Regions from separate parts of the Homo sapiens genome. Here all the other regions are linked to region 2. Evidence: fine-mapped expression QTL. A gene starts in region 2. Each other region holds a variant in brackets. All regions are shown on one strand. Distances are from middle to middle. Region 1 overlaps CEP164 (centrosomal protein 164). Region 2 holds the start of CEP164 (centrosomal protein 164). Region 3 has its middle 92 kb from the start of CEP164.

What was found. PIP is the estimated chance that this variant, and not a neighbour inherited with it, causes the effect. A credible set is the group of variants that fine-mapping cannot tell apart.
Region 1: its variant is the best candidate, but not a certain one, in a credible set for the expression of CEP164 in whole blood (TOPMed, PIP 0.52).
Region 3: its variant is the best candidate, but not a certain one, in a credible set for the expression of CEP164 in whole blood (TOPMed, PIP 0.57).

Annotation. Positions count from the first base shown.
Region 1 is chr11:117,389,296-117,395,158 of GRCh38, forward strand. It overlaps CEP164 (centrosomal protein 164), which reads left to right. Exons shown (of 33, transcript NM_014956.5): 16 at 1,482-1,613; 17 at 1,704-1,920; 18 at 2,931-3,008; 19 at 3,201-3,332; 20 at 3,709-3,831; 21 at 5,055-5,198; 22 at 5,625-5,708; 23 at 5,828-5,863. Among named protein-coding and RNA genes, the nearest start is that of CEP164, 64 kb to the left of the region's middle. The variant T/G (reference allele first, on the strand shown) is at 3,605.
Region 2 is chr11:117,323,816-117,332,328 of GRCh38, forward strand. It overlaps CEP164 (centrosomal protein 164), which reads left to right and starts at 4,039. Exons shown (of 33, transcript NM_014956.5): 1 at 4,039-4,089. RefSeq lists a silencer at 4,107-4,356.
Region 3 is chr11:117,415,722-117,424,234 of GRCh38, forward strand. No RefSeq gene overlaps it. Among named protein-coding and RNA genes, the nearest start is that of CEP164, 92 kb to the left of the region's middle. RefSeq lists an enhancer at 4,540-5,040. The variant T/C (reference allele first, on the strand shown) is at 3,514.

The sequences.
Region 1 (5,863 bases), 64 kb after region 2:
AGGGGGATGTCTGCTTAGGATGAAATGGCCACTGTTGTTGGTGTGTAAATAAGATAACCTTTCATAGATATCACGGCTTGCTTATAGTTTGGGGCTGGATGATGCTGTTCAAATTCAATTAATTTATTAAGCACCTACTTTATGTCAGCTACTATGTGTGGTACCTGGGATATAACAGATTTTAAGACAAGATTCTTTCTCTTGAGAAGCTCCCAGACTTGCAAGGAAAACAGAGATACAGAAGATGAATTATGATGCCATGTGACGCATGGTGCAGAGTAGCATGGGATAAGAAAGGTCCACATGTAAAGTGATGGGAACAGAAAGATGAATTGATGAGCTTGTAGGGAGTTGGAAAGACTTCCCAGAGAGGGAGCTGAGTGTTGAGGAATGAATATGGGTTTGCCAGATAGAAAAGGGAATTCTTGGCAGAGAACCTAGGAAGGAAGAGTGTGGTAGAATGGAGGGATGGTGACTCAGCTGATGTGGCTAGAACAGAGTCTGTCGGAGTGAAAGAATGTGGAATCTGGTTGGGTGGCTATAGCTATCCTTGAGTGAGTGCCATGCTGAGGTGAAGCTGTTGACAGAGGGGAGCCTTTGGAAGAAGTGCTGTACTACCAAAACCCAGAAGCCAGTAGTTTGCTTTTTTTTTTTTTTTTTTTTTGGAGATAGAGTCTTGCTCTGTTGCCCAGGTTGGAGTGCTGTGGTGTGATCTCAGCTCACTGCAACCTCTGCCTCCCAGGTTCCAGCAATTCTCCTGTCTCAGCCTCCCAAGTAGCTGGGATTACAGGTGTGCGCCACCATGCCCGGCTAATTTTTGTATTTTTAGTAGAGACGGGGTTTCGCCATTATGGCCAGGCTGGTCTCGAACTCCTGACCTCAAGTGATCCACCTACCTCGGCCTCCCAAAGTGCTGGGATTACGGGTGTGAGCCACCACGCCCGGCCATTAGTTTGCTTCTTGAAGCAAAGGGGAGTTCATGGTCCCTTCGTAATCCTGGGAGGTATTAGGGAGGCAGCAGTGGACCTAGAGGCTAAGGTTAGACTCATCTTTAAGATTTAGGAAGCTTTGACTGGGCGCAGTGGCTCACACCTGTAATCTCAGTGCTTTGGGAGGCTGAGGCTGAAGGATCACTTGAGCCTAGGAGTTCAAGACCAGCCTGGGCAACATAGCGAGACTCCATCTCAACAATTAGCTGGGTTTGATGGTGCATGCCTGTGGTCCCAACTACATGGGATGCTGAGGCGAGAGGATTGCTTAAGCCCAGGAGTTTAAGGCTGCAGTAAGCCATGATCACACCACTGCATTCCAGCCTGGACAACAGAGCAAGAACCTGTCTCCAAAAAGAAAAAAAAAAAAAAAGATTTAGGAAGTTTCTTAGGCAGGCAACAGGGCTATTGGAGGCTGAGAGCCATAGCTTATGAATAGAAGAAAGACCTTTGTGGTTTCTCTGACAACCTAGCCTTTCCTTTCCATCTCAGTTCCTTGAGGGAGCGGCTGCAGAAAGCCATTGAGGAGGAGGAGGCCCGGATGAGAGAGGAGGAAAGCCAGAGGCTATCCTGGCTCCGAGCTCAGGTCCAGTCCAGCACACAAGCAGATGAGGACCAAATCAGGTAAGTGTGTGCTTACCTGTGAGCTGCCCAGCCCTGCGGAGGCGACCCCAGGGTGCACAGGCCCGTTACCATTCCACTGTGTCCACCCAGGGCTGAGCAAGAGGCTTCCCTGCAGAAACTGAGAGAAGAGTTGGAGTCTCAACAGAAGGCTGAGAGGGCCAGCTTGGAACAGAAAAATAGGCAAATGCTGGAGCAGCTCAAGGAAGAGATAGAGGCTTCGGAGAAGAGCGAGCAGGCTGCCCTGAATGCTGCAAAGGAGAAGGCTCTGCAGCAGCTGAGGGAGCAGCTGGAAGGGGAGAGGAAAGAAGTGAGCTAGTCAAGTGGGGACCTCACCCTCTGACCTGTGTCTGGGCTGCCTGGGGAGGGACTGAGTGCACAAGGAGAAGAAGGGCAAGTCTCGGGTGGGCGTGCAGGCTGGGGAGCCAGGTGGAGAGTAGGTCTCACACACACAGGCATGGGAGACAGCGAGATGACCACCTGGGCCCATTACTCCATATGGACCGAATCGGCTCATGACAGGGCAGAGGATGCAGCAGGCATCACAAGGCTCCTCCAGGGTCAGGCTGGATGGCAGTGGCGGCTGGAGGTTGTCAAGCAGAGAACCCTCAGAGGCTTGAGGGAGAGCGTCCTGTGGATTTGAGAAAGTTCGTGACTGAAAGAGATTTAGCCAGACCAGAGGTTTTGAGACAAAGGCGCTCTGTCCCTCACTGTCTCTGAGGGACAGCTGCAAGGGCCTCACTCCCCACTTTTCTCTCCTTTCTTAGGATGAGAGGCTAGCAATATAGCAAGGATTTTCTCTTTGTCCATACTCCCTCTTCTACTCCAGTCAGATGGTGGGCTTCTGAAGGTTTTAGCACAGTCTCTCTGAGCACTTGTAGTACAGTGCACTTCCCTACTCCTGCTGTAGTGTTTTCCTTGTCTAATAGCTGCAGCTTTGCACCTCACCAAAATAAAAAGAAAATTCTACATGGCCCGACTTAATGACAGCATCCAACCTGGCCCCCCTGGCTTGGATCTTATTTACCAGCATGAGCACCATCTGTGGATCTGTGGCCTAGTCTAAAGGCAGGGGGTGGGAGCAGAGAGCCGAAACTTACTGAAATGCCCCTCTCCTCTGACCTTCATGTTCCTGTTCATTTGCCAGTTGTAGACTTCAGGGGCTGAGTTATTTCAGAGGAACAAAGATGTGCTGTGCTTCCCCATGCTTCCCTTGACCCTGATCTCGAGGGCTTGGGGGTCGGTAGTCTTCCTGGCTCCGCCTCCCACCATGATCAGTACCTGGCCAGCTTCACTCACAGTCCCTTTGCTCCTCCCCAGGCTGTGGCAACGCTGGAGAAGGAGCACAGTGCTGAGCTGGAGCGGCTCTGCTCCTCATTGGAGGCCAAGCACCGGGAGGTAAGATGCAGCATCCTGGGCCCCCTTCATGGCTGATTAGCAGAATTCAGCCCCATCCCTGGCTACTAGGCAGCGAGCCTCTCTCTCCAGCCCTGGGGGATGGATGCCAGGTCCTCAGAACACATCCCCACACAGCAGCTGTACAGTCTGTCTGAGGGTCACACTCCCCTGTGTGTGCGGGGGCCTCCTCAGGTGGTCTCCAGCCTCCAGAAGAAGATACAGGAAGCTCAACAGAAAGAGGAGGCCCAGCTGCAGAAGTGCCTTGGGCAAGTGGAGCACAGAGTTCACCAGAAGTCTTATCACGTGGCTGGGTATGAGCACGAGGTGAGTGCTGCTCTGTCTTCCACAGTCGTGTGCGCCTGTTGTGGACTCTCTTACAGTCAGCTGAGCCGGCCTAGCCTCAGCGGCCTCCAGTTTGCTTTGGATGGCTCAGCTGGGGTTAGCATTTCTAGTTCCCTTTTTATGCCTTAGTTCCCTTGAAGCCAGGTACTCCTCCAATCTGATGCCCCTGTATGCATGTGGGGAGGGGGTGTTGGGGTATGGCTGTGTGCTGACCATGGTGTCATGGCTGTGTGATGTGCATGTGTTGTGTGTGT[T/G]GGGGGAGATTGGGGAAATGTGTGTAAGACCTTCAGGTGCAGCAGGCCCTGAGTGCTGGTCCGCCTCGGTTCTTCATGCCACATCCCTGCCATCTCCCCTGCAGCTCAGCAGTCTCCTGCGAGAGAAGCGCCAGGAAGTGGAAGGGGAGCATGAGAGGAGGTTGGACAAGATGAAGGAGGAGCACCAGCAAGTGATGGCTAAGGCCAGAGAGCAGTATGAAGCTGAGGTAGCTCAGCCACATCCCCTGCGCGCATGCACACACATGCACACACACATGCACGCACATGCACACACACATGCACACACACATGCACGCACATGCACACACACCCCGGGGTCCTTCCCACCTGGCTGTGGGGCAGAGGAAGGGGATAAACTGTGGTCAGGGATTGTGGGAGGTTTTCCTTCCTGGTACCCTGCCACGATGATGTTTTTTGCCTTTTTTATTAAAACATGAGAAAAACCTCCACCTAATGGGGGGCAATTCCTCTTTTATCAGGCAGGCTGTACTTTCTTCTGATAGTAAAAAGAACCCCCATACATTGAGCTTGTACTGTGTGCCAAGAACTGTTCTGAGCTCTTTATCTATTTTAACTCATTTAGTCCTCACACCAGCCTTAGGAAGGATCTACTATCATTGTCTCCATTTTAAAGATGAGGGCACTGAGACTTGGAGAGTTTAAGTAGCTTCCCAAGATCACACCCAGCCAATAAGTAGAAGAGCTAGGATTCAAGCCCAGGCCATCTGACTCCAAAGCCTTCAGTTTCCTCACTGCAATGCTGTGTCACCAGGGTTCCTCAACATCTTGGGACACCAAGAAATAGACTGGCAAGAGCCAAGTAATACTGATATTCTCCCCATTTTAAGCCTTTGGTCTTAAGGTAGGAAAGTTCAGCGACTTGAGTTTACCCAAGCTGGCCTGCCTTGCTCACATTGAGGGTGAACAATGGGTGGGTAGAGGGTGGCTGACTATAGCCCACAGCTGGGACCCTGCAGGGTGTTAAGACTACTGCTCCAGTAACTGGAACCAGTATCCCAGACTCTTTCTAGGATCTTTCCCAGGGCAGAAATAGCAGTCCCATGATGAAATTTGCCATATCCCTTCCCCCAACCAATTATGACCTTGCTGAAGAATAGTGATAATTTATCAGTGACCTCTCATTCCTTACAGAGGAAAAGTTGTATATGGTGGAGCCATAGGGAGAGCCAGAAAGGGAATCTGTCGTGGTGTCTGACCAGCCTCTGCTTCAGCTCTAGAGGGCTGCAGGCTTGCTGGGGCCAGGGCCGGTGCTGTGCTTGTAACCCTCCTCTTCTCCAAGAGCTGGCTTTAGGGAGCCGATGGTGTCCCTGATCTTACTGATGCAAGGCTGCAGGGCTAGGGGAGCTGTGATTTTTGTGGTAGAAGGGGCTGCCGCAGCTTCCCACCGGTGGGCCCACCCTCCTTGCAGGAGAGGAAGCAGCGGGCTGAGCTTCTGGGGCACCTGACCGGAGAGCTGGAGCGCCTGCAGAGGGCCCATGAACGAGAACTGGAGACTGTGAGGCAGGAGCAACACAAGCGTCTTGAGGACTTGCGGCGCCGGCACAGGGAGCAGGTGAGGGGCCTGGGGCAGGGTGAGCCCACTGTGACCCCTCCATGCACAGTAGGAAGGTGCTGGGAGCAGACGCATGGCCCCAGCAGGATGCAGCCTGACAGCTTCTGGAGTGAGAGTCTCTCACTGGCCATCTCCAAGCTGGGGCATCCTTGTTACTTTGTTTTCTGGGCCAGGGAACACACTCAGGATTAGAACTAGAGGTCAGCCCCTGTAAGGCATTGGGGTTGGCACCTTTGCGTCTCCTTGCCCCAGCAGGAAGTAAACAAGGTGTGGAGCCTTCCTGGGAGGCTGCAGGGGCACACAGCGAGGAAGCCTGAGCCCAGAGTGGAGGTTGTGGTGTGGCATGGTGGGTTCTGGAACCCCCTCCTGCCCCTCAGCTAATGCCTTACACTCTTTCTATGCTTATGTGTTTCCCTTTCTGGGCAGGAAAGGAAGCTCCAGGATTTAGAGTTGGACCTTGAAACCAGAGCTAAAGATGTCAAGGCCAGATTGGCTCTGCTGGAGGTCCAGGTGAGGGATCTGCAGGAGTCCTTGACCTCAGAGTCATAGCTTCTCTAGCAGAGGGCAGGCTCTGCCCCTCAGACCTGGGGTCTGCAGTCAGCCAGAAAATCCTGTCTCTTCCCTGCAAGGAGGAGACCGCCCGGAGGGAGAAGCAGCAGCTGCTT
Region 2 (8,513 bases):
GTTTTGGTTTGCATTTCCCTCATGGTTAGTAACGTTGAACATTTTTTCACGTACCTGTTGGCCATTTGTATATCTTCTTTTGAGAAATGTCTTTTAAGGCAGTTTGCCCATTTTAAAAATCCGGTTATTTGGTTTTTTTTCTCTTGTTTTGGCTGTTGAGTTGTAAGAAAAAGTTCTAATAGTGGTTTCTGACCTAGGAGTAGGGAAAAAATTTGTCATCAATTCTTTCCCATCTTTGAAATATGACCCCTAAATGTTCATCCTTACTGTAGAAGACAACCTATGAGTGAAGTCCTCTCTCTCTTCTTCACTCATTGGGTATATTACTGGTATATCATTTAGTGTGTCAGGATGGGCACAGTGGCTCATGCTTGTAATCCCAGCATTTTGGGAGGCCAAGGCAGGCAGATCACCTGAGGTCAGGAGTTCAAGACCAGCCTGGCCAACATGATGAAAGCCCATTTCTACTAAAACTACAAAACATAGCCCGGTGTGGTGGCACATGCTTGTAGTCCCAGCTACTTGGGAGGCTGGGGCAGGAGAATCGCTTGAACCCAGGAGGCAGAGATTGCAGTGAGCTGAGATTGCACCACTGCACTCCAGCCTGGGCAACAAACTCCCTCTCAAAAAAAAAAAAAAAAATTTGTGTGTCATTTTTGTTATTTTCCCCCCAAAGTCTTACTTTTTAAATTATGTTTGCCTTGGGGGCATTTTATAAATTGGCTTGCATTTCTGAGTACAAACCTATGGGGAAACCTGATAAAATGCAAATTGTTGATTTGTGTGAAGGTAATCCTGTTAATCCCACAGTATCTCTTATTTTATTAGCTCTTCCCATGAGAGAGCAAGGAACCCATGCTAAGGCACAAGAGTTAAGCATTTGGATGGCAATTAAAATCAACAGGGCTGGGCGTGGTGGCTCATGCCTGTAATCCCAGCACTTTGGAAGGCCGAGGTGGGTGGATCACCTGAGGTCAGGATTTCAAGACCAGCCTGGCCAACATGGTGAAACCCTGTCTCTACTAAAAATACAAAAATTAGCCTGGCATGGTGGTGACAGAGTAAGACTGTATCTCAAAAAGCAAACAAACAAACAAACAAAAAACCAGATTGATTGCAAAGATTGCAAATTCTTAGATATAGGGACCAAGTCTACAAATGGTTTTTTGAATCCCTGTTTTGTGCAGGTTTGTGGTAGATGAGCTGGTGAGCCCAGAATTCCTTCCCAGTCTGGTCCCTTTGGCCCCTCAGTGAGACCTTTATTTATTTATTTATTTATTTATTTTTGAGACAGAGTCTCACTTTGTCACCCAGGCTGGAGTGCGGTGGCGTGATCTTGGCTCACTGCAACCCCTGCCTCTCGGGTTCAAGCGATTCTCCTGCCTCAGCCTCCCAAGTAGCTGGGACTACAGGTGTGTGCCACCACGCCCAGTGAATTTTTGTGTTTGTAGTAGAGACAGGGTTTTGCCATGTTGGCCAGGCTGGTCTTGAGCTCCTCATCTCAGGTGATCCACCTGCCTCACCCTCCCGAAGTGCTGGGATTACAGGTGTGAGCCACCACAGCCTGGCCTACTTTTTTCTTTTTTTGAGACAGAGCTTCGCTCTTGTCAAACAGGGTGGAGTGCAATGGCGAGATCTCGGCTCACTGCAACCTCCACCTCCTGGGTTCAAGCGATTCTCCTGCCTCGGCCTCCCGAGTAGCTGGGATTACAGGTGCCTGCCACCACAACCAGCTAACTTTTGTATTTTTAGTGGAGATGGGGTTTCACCATGTTAGCCAGGCTGGTCTCAAACTCCTGACCTCAGGCGATCTGCCTGCCTCGGCCTCCCAAAATGCTGGGATTACAGGTGTGAGCCACTGTGACCGGCCAAGACTTTTAAAGAAGATGGAGAGGAAAGGGGACGATGATTTGTCATTTACAGTAAGAATAAAGGAAGTATAGGCATAACTGCTGCAGAAGGATTTAAATTTAAACATGATGACGTCAATCTAAATAACAGAGAGGGAAACTCCAAAAGAAAATGATATTTATTTAGAAGTAGCATTGCAATAGGTATACACATGCCATAGAGGCTGGGCAAGTAGGACCTTTTTTTTTTTTTTTTTTTTTTGAGACGGAGTGTCGCTCTTGTTGCCCAGGCTGGAGTGCAATGTCGAGACCTTGGCTTACCACAGACTCCGCCTCCTGGGTTCAAGCGATTCTCCTCTCTCAGCCTCCCGAGTAGCTGGGATTACAGGCATGCACCACCATGCCTGGCTAATTTTGTATTTTTTAGTAGAGATGGGGTTTCTCCATGTTGATCAGGTTGGTCTTTAACTCCTGACCTCAGGTGATCCACCTGCCTTGGCCTCCCAAAGTTCTGGGATTCCAGGCATGAGCCACTGTGCCTGGCTCAAGTAGGAATTTTTATTTTATTTATTTTTTTAGACGGAGTCTTGCTCTGTCACCCAGGCTGGACTGGAGTGCAGTGGCTTGATCTGGGCTCATTGCAACCTCCACCTCCCGGGTTTAAGTGCCTCAGCCTCCTGCCTCAGCCTCCTGAGCAGCTGGGACTACAGGCGTGTGCCACCATGCCCAGCTAATTTTTGTATTTTTAGTAGAGACGGGGTTTCATCATATTGGCCAGGCTGGTCTCGAACTCCTGACCTTAGGTGATCCACCCGCCTTGGCCTCCCAAAGTGCTGGGATTACAGGTGTGAGCCACTGTGCCTGGCAAAGTGCTAGGATTACAGATATGAGCCACCAGGCCCGGTCGATAGTTTTTGTTATCAGGTATTCATGCGTGAGAACCCTCTCTTCATGGTCTTCCCTGGCTCCATTTGTCAGGGTTTTAAAACAAATGACTCTATTTTGATTTTGATAATTTTCACAAGGAATATGCTCTGTATATTCCAACAATCTGAGTTTCTCATCCTGGAATCAGCCTCTGAGTGGCACTGGGACTATCCTGAGTCAGCTACATCTCTAGAACCTATCAGGAGCGGCTCTATGAGCTTGGCCTCATCATTTTCCTCCTCAACTAGCAGCATCTGTATTTGTCTGTTTCTCAGTTTTCCTATTGATGTAATGGCCAGAACTTTCTTTGCCCCTCTTAACTTCTCTAGGAGGTTGGAGACATATGAGAGAAAGGAAGATTTGCCCTCCGTGCAAGCAAAACTAAAACTCTTCGGAATTATATTAGTAGCAACCTTTCTGCCCGACAGGGTGTGTGGAGGAGCTACACATTGTGTCACTTTTTTTCTTCTTCAATAGACTCTTTGAAATAGTTATGACAGACATTACTATCCCCATCTTGCAGACATACAAACTGAACCCTGGGCTTTGGTGAAAAGATGGATAGTAGAAAATAGGTTTAACTCCTGGTCAGGTGCTCACTGGTTTAATAGGAGCACAGGAGAGCCAGTTTTTTTGCGGGGAGAGATGGGGAGTGGACGCGTCTCCATTACCTTACATTCACATTTGTTTTGTTGATTAAAGTAACAATGGGTTGATTATTGATGACCACTGTATTATTCACCTGATGTTAATCATACTCCTAACAAATGATCAATTAGATAATTAGATAATTCACATTAGTATAAATACTCTAAATAGTCCTTCTCTGTCCTGGCAGAAATCCTCACGTCTAAACTCGGGGTCCTCTTTTTTTTTTTTTTTTTTTTTTAGTAGAGAAGGGGTTTCACCATGTTGGTCAGGCTGGTCTCGAACTCCTGACCTCAGGTGACCCACCCGCCTCGGCCTCCCAAATTGCTGGAATTACAGGCGTGAGCCACCGCGCCCAGCCGATGAGGTTCTCTTTCAACCTCTTGCGGATTCCCATTATCTATCTTAAACTACACTCTTTCAACCTCTTGCGGATTCCCATTATCTATCTTAAACTACACTCCCATCGTGCAACGGAAAACGGACAGAGCTCCTGCGTGCACCGAAGGGACTTCGAGCCAATCCATTGTCACAGCTCTCAGCCGGCGACCTATTGGCTCCTGCTGGAGGCGGGACTCCCGGTTGCTAGGCGGTACCTTTTCCGGAAGTGTTTGTTGCGCGCTGCAGGGCAACACCCCGGCGTCCCTGGAAGCTGGGGGAGCGGGTGGGTGTTGGGTGGCGTTGGGGGAGCTGCGCCTCGCCCAGAGCCTCGCCCGGAGCCTCGCCCGGAGCCTTCCGGGGTGGGGGATAGTTGAGGACCTCATCGAGGGAGGGGTTGGGCGGCGGGGAAGGGAGCGAGCGTGGCGGGGGACCCGAGGCACGCTCTCGAGCCAACGAGCGTGATGCGCTCGAGTGTGGGCGGGGACTGAGGGAAGAAGTGAAAATCGGACTGCCAGGCGACAGTTCCTCCGTTTGAAATCTCGCCGGCTCCTGAGCGGGCCACCGGGCCCGGGCTGGGGGTCTGGCGGGTGAGTGAGCAGCGGGTCGGGACGCGGGAGAGGGGCACTGGGCACGGGGCCCTGGTTTGCTTGCTCTGTTCATCGTTGGCGAGTGAGGCCAGGCCTTCCGAAGCTTGCTGGGATACTTCTGTGGCAGGCTTCCCCCCGGGTCCAAATCCGGGGCTAGCCCAATCTTATGCCATCTTTGGCCAGCTGGGAAAGTTGGAAAGCTTTTTTGTTTTTTCCTTTTCTTGCATTGGATTTAAAAATGTCCCTCTACCTCTGGCACCGCTCTCCTCACTTGGCTTCAGCGACTCCCTGTCCGTTCTCCTAACTCAGTCCTTGGCAGTAGAAAGCTCCCTTCTACTCGGCGCACTCCATCTCTTGCGTTATCAGCTTTTCAGCGTTGACTCGCCAAACTACTCCAGCCAGACCTCTTTCCTGAGCTCAGACCTGCTTACTGTCATCGTCAGCCTTCCCCGGTCCCTCCGATCTGTTTCTCCTCTTGTATTTTTTTATCTCAATGAAGGGCTTCACCATTCACTCAGCCAAGTCTGTCCCTTTAATTTATTCATCTAATAAATACAGCAAACATTTGTCGGACATGCCCTGTCTTCTAGGCAGTGTAGTAGGTGGGGCTGCCTATTGGACGAGGCATAGAAATGAACACATCTAGAAATGATAGTCACAGTGTTCTGGCTTTAGTGCTCTGATTTCCCTCCTCTCTCCCGAAGTTCAAGTCCTGTATTCTGCCTCTTAATTCCCCTAGAATCTGGCGCTTCCTTTCCATCCTCACAGACACTGACTTAGTTCATAATTTCTTGCTTGTGCTTTCAGGATAACTTCCTAAGTGGTCTCTCTGCCTCAGTTCTTGTCCTCCTGTAATTAGTTCTTATGCAGCTGTCAGAATCATTTATTTATTTTAGAGACAGGGTCTTGGTATGTTGCCCAGGCTGGAGTGCAGTTGGTATTCACCGGTGTGACCCTAGTACACTGCAGCCTCGAACTCTTGCCCTCAAGCCATCCTCCCACCTCAGTCTCCTTAGTAGACGGGACTACAGGCATGCACCACTATTCTTGGCTAGAATCGTCTATCTGACCTACAGATCTGGTCATGCCAGTCTCCTTTGTGAAATCCTGTGATGGCCCCTCATCATTTACAGGATAGAGCCTCTGTTCTTCCAGGCCCTTTATAATATGCTCTTGCCTTTCATTCTAGAGCTCTGTCTTGCCACTCCTCCCACTGTCCCTTGCACTCTGGTCATGTCAGAATGGTTAAGAGTTTGGGCTTTGGAGTCAGACATGGATACTTACATATTCTGCTCTACCGTTTATTAGCTGTGACACCTTGGGCAAGTTTGTTTGTTTGTTTGTTTGTTTTGAAATAGAGTCTTGCTCTGTCGCCCAGGCTGGAGTGCAGTGGTGCGATCTTGGCTCACTGCAGTCTCAGTCTCCTGGGTTCAAGCGATTCTCCTGCCTCAGCTTCCCGAGTAGCTGGGACTACAGGTGGGCACCACAACTCCTGGCTAATTTTTTGTATTTTGGTAGAGACGGGGTTTCACCATGTTGGCCAGGCTGGTCAGGATCTCCTGACCTCATTATCCGCCCACCTCCGCCTCCCAAAGTGCTGGGATTACAGGCGTGAGCCACTGCGCCTGGCCTTTTTTTTTTTTTTTTTTTTTTTAACTTTGCTAAGCCTCAGTTTCCTTATTTGAAAAGTGAAGATAATTCTATTTTGCTGAGTGGATGAAGTGAGATGATGTATATAGAGCACTCAGTACAGTTCCTGTAACATAGGAAGTGTTCAGTGGCTATAAGCTTTTGTTGTCATAATTAATTCTTTGCACCCACCTTATGATTTTCTTCTTTTTTGCCTTTGTGCATGTTGTTCCTCTGCCGTGAATTCCCTTACTCCGCTTATCCTGGGGATCACCTGCTTATCCTTCAAGAACTATCTCAATTGTCCTCTGTGAGGCTTTCCCTGATCTTCCTAAGATTATTTGCCCTTACCTTTGTGTTCTGTTATATATTATGTTACTTCCTTTAATTCATGTAACACATTTTGTAGTCATGTGTTTACGTGTTTGGCTTTCCAGGTAGGCTGAGCTCAAGTTCAGGGCCATGTGTAATCAGGTTTGTAGCCCTAACACGTCGCACAATGTCTGGCCCATGGTGGGTGTTCAGTAAGTGATTACTTGGCGCGGTGACTCACGCCTGTAATCTCAGCACTTTGGGAGGCCAAGGCGGGCGGATCACCTGAGGTCAGGAGTTCGAGACTTGGCCAACATGGTGAAACCCCATCTCTACTAAAAATACAAAAATTAGCCGGGCGTGGTGGCAGGCGCCTGTAATCCTAGCTACTCGTGAGGCTGAGGCAGGAGCATCATTTGAACCTGGGAGGCAGAGGCTGCAGTGAGCAGAGATCGTGCCATTGCACCCCAGCCTGGGTGACAAGAATGATACTCTGTCTCAAAAAAAAAGCAAAGAAAAAGTGATTACTTAATGTCTGAATGGCCTTAACTTATATTGCCTGGTGCTGGATATGTCCTTTGGAGCAAGGTAGAATAAACCCTTTTAAATAGGTGAATAGCAGTCATAATAATGTAATGTCTAACATTTATTGAGACCTTAGTATATTTTAAGCACTTTACATGTATTGAATCATATAAGCCTCACAACACATTGTGATGGATATTGTTAGTACTCTCATTTTATAGATGAGAAAACTGAGGCTGTCCAGCTAGTAAGAGGCAGAGCTGGGATTGAAAGCCAAGAATGTTCCAAAGCTTTTGCTCATTACCACTGCGTAATCAACTCTGACATCTTCCACCTTCTCCCCTTTACCTTCTCCAGTCAATCTTTTCTGTGGTCAACCTTCTTTGTAATTGTTGGAGCAGGGTGGAAGAAATAAATATACAGAGAACCCTCATTATGTCTGTGAGTGTATATTCTCTGTTAGTGTGCAGATGTGCAAAACTCTAGCTATGCTGACAAAGTACAGGGCAAGGTAGCCACAATATTGAAGGACTGGGAAACGATATGTACTGAATGGAAGAGAACTGGGAATACTTAGCCTACCTTAGCTAGAGAATCCTAGGGTGTCCCCAGATGAGCAGAAGGCAGACTTGAGATACCAGGGAACATTTTTTTAGAACCTGATTATTGGCTTACTATTAGACCTTCTAATAGTTAAGAATTATCTAACTATGGAATTGAAAATAGAATCTGTAATACTAGCTAAATTTGTGTAACTTTTCTGTATACAGGGACTGTGCTAGGCACTTTATAAGTGTTGTTTCATTTTACTTTCAGGCTTTTTGATTTTTGTTAAGATTGTTTTAATTATACACATGCAGTTATTGAGGCTGAGAGAGGTGAAGCACCTTGCCTAAGGTCATACAGCTGCTAAGTGAGAGAGCTGGGATTTGAATCCAGGTCTTCTGTCTCCAAAGCTGGTACTTTGACCACTATGCCGCCTGTCACTGGAAGCACAGAGAGGAAAATTTTGGCATGGGAAGGAAGGTGGACCAAAACTACTGCGGGTCTTCCTAGCTTCTGAGATTGCTGGTGTATTTTTTTTTTTTTTCAGATAGGGTCTCACTCTGTTGCCCAGGCTGGAGTATGGTGGTACAATCATAGCTCACTGCAGCCTCGAACTCCTGGTCTCAAGTGATCCTCCCACCTCTGCCTCCCCACTTTACACTCTTTATGTAACTCTGTCTTCCTTTCCATCTGATCACATAGCTCCTGCCTCAGCCTTCCGAGTAGCTGGGACCACAGGTGCACGCCACCATGCCTGGCTAATATATATATATATATATATATTTGTGGAGACAGGGTCTTACTATATTGCTCAGGCTGGTCTTGAGCTTCTAGGCTCAAGTGATCCTAGGCCTTGGTCCCCCATAGTATTGGGATTACCGGTGTGAGCCACAACACCCGGCCTATTCCTTGGTTTTATATTAGCAGTTACAGCAGTAACTGAGCTCCGACAGCTTACATAGGCTTATTTTAGGCTTTGTTGGAAAATTCCAGAGGAGGAGACATGGCCCTCAGAAGTTTGTGGTTTAACAGGAGAGGTAAGAAGACACATTTTCATAAAAAAAGTAATATTGGCCAGGCACGGTGGCTCACGCCTGTAATCCCAGCA
Region 3 (8,513 bases), 92 kb after region 2:
ACAAGGCTCTGGTGGGGAGGTGTGCTGAGAGGGGATTGCTTATCCCACCACCAGCTTTTCTGGGGGAGGTGGGGAAGTGATGGTTAAAAAATGGAGTTCCTGCTATCAGCCATGTCCTGATGAATTGGAAAGTCCCCTTCTTTCTCCTTTCCTCTTGCATCTCCTGCCTGCTTCCCCTGCCTGCCCTCCTGTGACATGTGCCCTCTCCAGCAGGTATGTCACACAGCACCCCAAGGGAAGGGCAGTGTAACGCTCTTTTCCATGATGGACTACCACAGCCAGAGGAAGACAGGCCTTCCCTTCTTTTCTAGTTCTTTTTGGTTTGAAAACAAGGCACTCTTATTTTCCCCTTCCAAGAAGCTGGTGGTTCACACGGGCCAGCACACACATTATCAAAGACCTAGTTTGTTTCTAGTAAATGAGTCCATTGAAGTGGGAGCCTTGGCCGGGCAAGGTGGCTCACACCTGTAATCCCAGCACTTTGGGAGGCCGAGATGGGTGGATTGAGATCGAGACCATCCTGGTCAACATGGTGAAACCCTGTCTCTACTAAAAATACAAAAATTAGCTGGGCGTGGTGACACACACCTGTAGTCCCAGCTACTCAGGAGGCTGAGGCAGGAGAATCGCTTGAACCTGGGAGGCGGAGGTAACAGTGAGCCGAGATTGCGCCACTGCACTCCAGCCTGGGCGACAGAGTGAGACTGTCTCTCCAAAAAAGAAAAGAAAAGAAAGAAAATAAATGAAATGGGAGGCTTAATTTATTTGAGACATATCACAGCTACCCTGAAAGAAGGAGAGAGGTGCTGGTGCCCTGCAGTGATAAGCACTCCTCACATCACAGTAGGGTTGAGGAGACGGCAGACGTTTGTAAATATGAGTCTTTGTAATTTAGAATCTGCCAACATTTTTTATCAGGTGGGAGGAGAGGAAATGGCCACAGGCGAACACACACGCACACACCCCATAGCACGCTTAGCTCCATTGTGGGTTAGAAAGTCCATGTCTTACATTGAGTAGAACCCCAGCTCTTGGTTTTGGGGTCATATTACACTGTCCCCATCAAACTTATCACCCTGATTGTTGTCAGTGCTTTTAGAAGATGTAGTAGCATTTCTTCTAGAGAGGGTGTAGGAGTCTCCTTGCCCAGCAGCCCTCAAAGTCCTGATCCCCCTTCCCTATGGGGCCCTATGAAGGCACACTCCCTGGAGAGTTCAATAGTTTCTTCTCTCCCTTTCCAGGGTCTCTGAGGCTAGTGTGACTGTTGAGAGGCTCCCAGCCATGCTCTCTGTGACCCTCAGGCTTGGGTTGGGATCCCAGCGCTCCTTGAAATAGAGCAAAAGGTGATGGGTTGCATAGTGTCTGTGGAGGTGCTGGTGCCTGAGAGCATAACAATAGAACAGGCTCCTGCACATAACCTTTGGGATGGACCCATGACCCCAGTTTGGAGGCGAGGGTTAGGACAAGATGGCCCTGAAGGAAGGATTGCCTCCCATCTTCCTTGGTTGGGTCAAATCAGCTGGTTAATGTCCTCTCCCTTTTGTTTTTTCTTGAAAGACCCATATCACTTTCATCCAAATCCATATGTCAGTTGTTTCCCCCTGGCCCTGACCTCTGATCAGATAGGGGGACTGGATCTGGATCATTGGGATGATTGATCTGGAGGTGAGAGACAGCTGCTGTTTCATTAAGTCAGCTCAGCCATAGCCCCCACCCTGGAAACCTTACTCTCTCTCCAGCAGCCTTCTAACTCTACAGGGAGGGCCCTTTGGTCTGTGATGAAATGGTTTGTGGGTGGGCAGCACGCCTGGGAGGGGCTGCCTCCATCTCCAGGAAGCACAGTTCCTCTCCCGGCTCGGGCAGGATGGGGTGCAGGTAGTGCTCTCCTAGTTTTAAAAATTCTAGGATAGGAGACGTCAGTCTGCCTCATGGCTTTTGCTCTGTGGGGTAGAGCAGAGGGCATTGGAGACATTTCCGATTGCCCCTGCTGAAGAGAAGGATACCCGTTCTTGGGAGGTAAGAAGCAGAGGGACAGTTGGGTGAGTCTCACTCTCAGGGTTAAAAGCAGGGAGGCTATGAATCGAACAAGGATTTCCACATTATCCTTTATAAAGAGGTTGTGAGGATGCAAGAAGTCCTTAGAACAGTGTTCGGCACATAGTAAGGCCTCAATAAATGTGAGCTGTTGGTATTGCCGTTGCCCTGGCCAGGGAAGTCGGGAACCATGACGGAGACTGCAACCTGTGTGACTTCCCATGAGTAACCGCAAAAGTCTTGGACACAGAGGACAAGACAGGTGGCAAAGAAAACGCTTGCTGGGGGATTGTGTTCCTCTTCATGGCCAGTTGTATGTGAGAGGGAGAGAGAGAGGGAAGTGGAAAGTTTAGGACCTGGGGCCAGCAGGCAGGAGGCAGAACAGAGCCTGTCAGGCTTGAGACGGTGCCCTAGGTTGGAGTACAGGACGGTCTCCTGGGGTTCCCCACGAGGAGCCGACGCCTACCCGCTGCATGGACCTTGGAGACTGAGAAAATAGGCTCCACCGCTCTCCTAGTGACCCGTCCCCCTGTAGGGCCACTGCTGGGGCAGCTTAGGCACTAGGCCTGGAAAGGGGCAAAGGTAGGGAATGGAGCTGGGACTCTCTTGGATTACCTATTATGTTAGGCTGGCTTCAAGGCTCTATCTCATGCCTCCAAAAGACCTGGGCTCAAATTCTGACGCCCAGGCACTAGTGGAGTATCTTTGGGAAATGATCCTCTGCCTAAGCCTCAGTTTCCTTATTTGTATAATGGAGCAGAAGATACCACACACACACAGGGTGAATGAAATAACCTAGGACAAGTACTTTGGGTGAAGCACCTTGTAAACTACAGAGTGTTGTGGAAATGCAAGTGTTTGTTGAACCTCTGCTTGAATGCCTCCAAGGACAAGGTGCTCATCACCCCTGAGGTAGCCAGTCCTGCTGTTGAGCAGTTCTGAACTGGCTGAGGGGGAGTCTTCTCTTACAGTTCTGCTGTGGACTCACACAGAAAAAAATGTCCCTTTACTTCTTCCACATGATAGAATGAAATAGGGTCACAGAACCCTCTCCCGTCCGCTGCTTGTCCCCCTTATGAACATACATGAGTGTATGCACATGCAGGGGTTAAAGTGTAGTGCATGCACATTTGGATTCTCACAGGGCCTCTTACTAATAAAGTAGCCTCTGTTTGCTTACTACCAGCCAGTGCAAAGGCCTTTACCTATCTACAGCTCTCAAAGATCCTCATAGCAATCTTATGAGGTAGACAATGATCTCCATTTTACAAGATGAAAAAAGAAAGCGAGAGAGCCTTGGAAGGTTAAGCTATTAGGTTGCAGAATGAGAGTGCAAACCAATGGCCTGTAGTGCAGTTGTTCACGTAGGCACTTGTGTGGACACTGCACACCCTCATGAGTATGCGCCCTCCCTCCCGGCACAGGGATTGGAGGGCGAGGTTGGGGGCTGAGAAGGAGGTCCGGGGCAGCCTCTTTCTT[T/C]GTGTGAAGAGGGAAGGTCTCCCCAGGGAAGGCCTTCTGCTCTACCTACCCTTTCTCCTCCTCCTACGTGCTCTCTTCGGCTTCAGAGGCCGGCAGAGTCTGACTAAAGGCAAGACAGCGGTGGTGCCTTCAAATAAATAGCTGTTGTCTCATCCTCAGCCCCATTTCCTCTTGGAGAAAGTTGGCAGGCCCTGGGGCCACAACAGCATCCACTCTGTTGTAGCTACAAAGAGAAGATGGTAAGGGTAGTGCCCGGGTGCTCCCCTCCTCAGAAACCTCCTCCTGGGAGCAGTCAGACAGATCTGTGGCTCTGCCATTGACCACCTCTGTGCTCTGGACAAGTGACTGTCCAGCGACTCAGCGTCGGTGTCTTCATCTGAGAATGAGCTCATTCCATGCACCCTGGAACATCTGCTGGGCTGCCTGTTCTCCTCACCCCATGCCCCCAGCGCCTGGGAAGTGCCAAGCACACAGGAGACCTCCCTAAGCAGTAGGTATTCCTGCACCCAAGGCCCGTGATGAATTCCCTCCCACTCCCTGGCATTGCAGACCCTACCCTTTTCTTAAGCTCTGCCCAGGGACACCCTGAAGCCCTACAACGGCCCTAACTCCTAAAAGGAATCCCTGCTTGGCTCAAGGGCGATCTGACCCAGGCGGTTCCTTGGAGTCTGGGCTGGGCTGCGGTGACACCCCTGGTGCCCCAAAATCCACCGTGCACTCCTCTAGTCTCTGAATCCCCATGGAGGGGTGTCAGAGCCTGGCAGGCGTGGGACCTGTGCCTCCTGGGGAAGGAGGCTGAGGTGGGCAGGACCCAGGGTGTCAGGCAGAGTCAGACACTGTAGAAATGCCTGGGGGAGGGTGGGGATGGGAGACTTGTAGTCTAAGCTTGCAGGACCTGCCAAGTCCCCTCTCCCTTGGTGTTGCCGACAGAGCCCCATGGTGGCTGGAGGCCTGGCTTTCGTGCGGGGCATTGGTCTGAGGCGGCTGGCCGCAGTGGTGGCTGGTGGTGGCTGCCCGGGTGCTGAGCCCGGATGTGTCCAGTCAGCGCGTACTGGAGATGCCACTTGTCACAAAGGCCCTGGCGGGGCTCAGCTGGGGACACGCAGGGCCATGCCTGGAATGGTGCCATCCACCTCCACTGGGCCCAGGAAGGGTGGAGCTCAAGAGAGAAAGAATGGCACCCACAGAGGCAGGACGTCTTAGGGCAGAGCTCACCATCTGGGTGATGCCTCCTGGGGGAGGTGAGGCATTGGCCCAGCATGGATGGGGTGGCATTTTACTGCGCCGTCCACCCTTTCTGGTGACTCCCAGGAGTTGGGGGCCCAGTGCTAGCTCCTGGTTGGGACTGATGACAGTGAATTTGAGGACATCAGAGGCCTTCAGAGCTTCCCTTTCTGCACAGGCTGTGAATCCTCTTGGTGAGCTTCAGTAGGTTCTCTAGGGCAGCAAGGGACCTTCATATCCCACCTGCTTCCCTGGACACAAATCTGGGCAGGAAAACAAACAAACAAACAAAAGCTGGGCATGGTGTTCCTCGCCTGTAGTCCCAGCAACTCGGGAGGCTGAGGTGGGAGGATCGCTTGAGGCCGGGAATTCCAGGTTGAGCGCACCATGATTGCGCCACTGTACTCCAGCCTGGGCAACAGCAAAACCCTGACCAAAAAAAAAAAAAAAAAGAAAGAAAGAAAAGAAGAAACAACAACAGCAACAACAAAACCTGGGCAGATGAGGCAAATCCTGGCTTCTCTGGAATCTGACCCTCTGGTCTGCTGGTTTGTATCTTGTCTAATCCCCATTTCATAGTTAAAAGCTTTTTAACCTCATTATTTCCTTTCAGTCTTATCAACCTGGCAGCATGGGAGTTATTCTCGCATTTCATAGAAGCGGAAATTGAGGCCCATGAGGGCGAAGGTGCTTTCCCGAGGTCACAGAGCTGGCAAGGGAGCAGCAGGATTGACTCCGCAGCCCCTGCGTTTCCATCGCAGTGCCCGCCACATAGTAGGAACTCTACACATGGCGCCTTCTGGGGGCCGCCTGGCTTTCTGGAAAGGATCCGAAGTGGTTTGGTGAGCACCGGCTTTGGAATTCAAACCCTGGCTGATGCCTCTTGCCGGCTGAGTGGCCTTGTACAAGTCACCTGACCTCTTTGACTTCTTTCTTAGCCAATAAAATGGAGATCACACATCTTCAGGGCAGAAATTACAAACACATTAATTTCCCATCCATAGATCCTTCCCACGAATCACCAAAGAGGAGGCCTGCCTTGCCTGCGGTTTCTCCCACCTCCTCTGCCTCCCCTATGCCCAACTGTTGCTGTTTCCTAATGGAAAATGGGGGGAAATGAATGTGAGAGAACATTCCCCAGAGGAGAGGAGGGCGGAGCTGAGCAGGGCTGGAGAAGAGCAGGCAGTGTGTGGGGGGATGTGGGAGGCACAGGCTCCGTAGGGTGTCAGCGGGTGTCACTTACATCTGCTCTTCGGACCCCTTCAGGATCACAAAAACAAAAGCAGATAACTTGAGTTATTTAAAACTTTCGTTTTGGTGGCTGAGTGGATTGAGGTTCTTTGACTGGCACTACGGCCCTGAGACACCACCACTTGGGTTTTGTGCTTATAGGAGTTACTCTTTTTTACAGGGTAGTGGTAAAACTAGGAGAGTATCCGTGCTAAGTGGTTATCAGGGTGCTTGACTCAAGTAGACTCTCAGCAAACGGCAGCAGGCATGATGGTATTCTGTTGTGTTGTTTTCTTGTAACTTGGGGACACTATGCGGAGAGAACCAATGTTTCAGGAGATCTCGGCCTTCACTGGTCTACTCCTTGCCCGTTTCTCCCACTGTTTACCCTTTGTTCATCTATGTCTAACATATGTTGTGCTCCTATTAAGTCAGGCACTGTCCCTTCTCTGGAAGAGACAGTGGAACCCTTCTCTGCCCTTGGGGAGCCTGTCTGCTGAGGACGATGTTCAAATACCATCTGTGGAGGGCTTCTGAGTTGGGAAGGGATGAGACTTGTTTTGTGGTGCCCCCCAGGAGTGGCAGTACCGAGCCTTGTGAGTAGAAGTTGGAGGGGCCACCCAAGCTTAGTGTGAGGGAGGTTTTGCTGTTAGAGCTGTCACAGGTGAGATGTGCTGGCTGGGGAAGTGATGAGTTCTCCATCAGGAGGTGTGCACGGGAAGGCCAGACCACTCTTGCTGATTGCAGATGGAATTCCCAATTTGGGTGGAAGCGTGGACCAGGTGGCGTTGAAGGTCTCTTTGAGTCCTGAGATTGTGCGATTCTTAGAGACACTAAAACCAAGTATGGATCACCTCCAGGGTAATCCAGCTGGCATCTATTCCTCCTTCGGCCTAGAGTATTGTTGTCATTGCCCAGAAGAGGACATGGATTCTGGGAGGAAGGACAGAGCCCTGACTCAGGGTTCATGCTCAGCCTGGTTCTCCCACCCTTCTCCTACAGACACACAGATGCCCTCCTCCTCTCTAAGCTCACCAGCGTCTCCCTTTGCCTTTCCCACCCTTTACCTGTATAGGAATCCAATATGTAGGGTAAGAGGAGGTGACATGGTATGGTGGGTGACATGGTATGGCAGGCGGTGCGGGGGAGGATGCCCTGGGCCTGATCTATCAAGGGAGAATTTCTATGGGGAGCCAAGTTCCCCTTCATCTCCTGCATAAATTAAGATGATGCTAATTGTTGTAAAATAAACTCCAAAGTATCGGTGCTTACTGCAAGTTTATTTCTTGCTCACATAAAGTCCAGCTGGCATTGAAGGGGATAGAGGGGCCTCTGCGCTACATCGATGTATAAGCCAGGGTGATAGAGGATCTGCCATCTTCAATAAGTGGCTTCCAAGTTCACCTTGGGCATTGACTTACAGTTGGAGAGAGCAGAGGGTGGCCAGGGAAGTTTTTATGAGCTGGACCTGAAAGTAGCGTGTATCACTTATGCCACATTCCGCTGGTCAAAGCTCAGTCTCATCGCCTTCTCTGAGAATCGGGGGCCTGGAACTGTAGTCACGGGATGCGTAGCGACTTCCCCGCAACAACTGTGCACTGTGGAGGATCATGAGGCTTTGGCAGACAGCAAACCCTCCCTGCTGTTCCCTGACCCAGGCTTCCCTCCTTCCGCCTCCGCCAGTTTGCGCACACTCCGGGGAGTGAGCCTTTGAGCGCAGGAAGAGACCCACAGGGCCTTTGCATCTCCAGTGCCCAGCTCAGTGCCAGATCATTGGAAGTGCTTCTGGGTATTTGGTGAATGAACAAATACTTGGGTATCATTTCGCTTGTTAAAAATACAGATGCCACAAGGTCAGGAGTTCAAGATCAGCCTGGCCAACATGGTGAAACCCTGTCTCTACCAAAGATACAAAAATTAGCTGGGTGTGGTGGCGCATGCCTGTAATCCCAGCTACTCAGGAGGCTGAGGCAGGATAATTGCTTGAACCCGGGAGGTGGAGGTTGCAGTGAGCCGAGATGGTGCCACTGCACTCCAGCCTGGGCTACAGATTGAGACTCCGTCTCAAAAACAAACAAACAAACAAACAAAAAATACAGATGCCTGGGGGAAAACAGTTTGTTCGTTCCTCAAAAAGTAAGACATAGAATGAGCATGTGATTCAGCAGTTCCAGTCCTGGCTATATTCCCAAAAGAATTGAAAAGAGGGGCTCAAACAGATCCTTGTACACCTGTGTTCATAGCAGCATTATTCACAATAGCTGAGAGGCAGAAGCAACCCACGTGTCCACCAGGAGAGGAAATGAATGGAGAAGCAACATGTCGTAAATAATGGAATATCCTCAAACAGGAGTGGAATTCTGACACATGCTGCAACATGGATGCAGCTTGAAGACATGATGCTAAGTGAAATAAGCCAGAACCAAAAGGACACATATTGTATGATTCCACTTATACAAGGTACCCAGAATAGGCAGGTTCATACAGACAGAAAGTAGAATGGTGGTTGCCAGGTGCTGAGAGAGAGGAAGATGGGGAGTTATTGA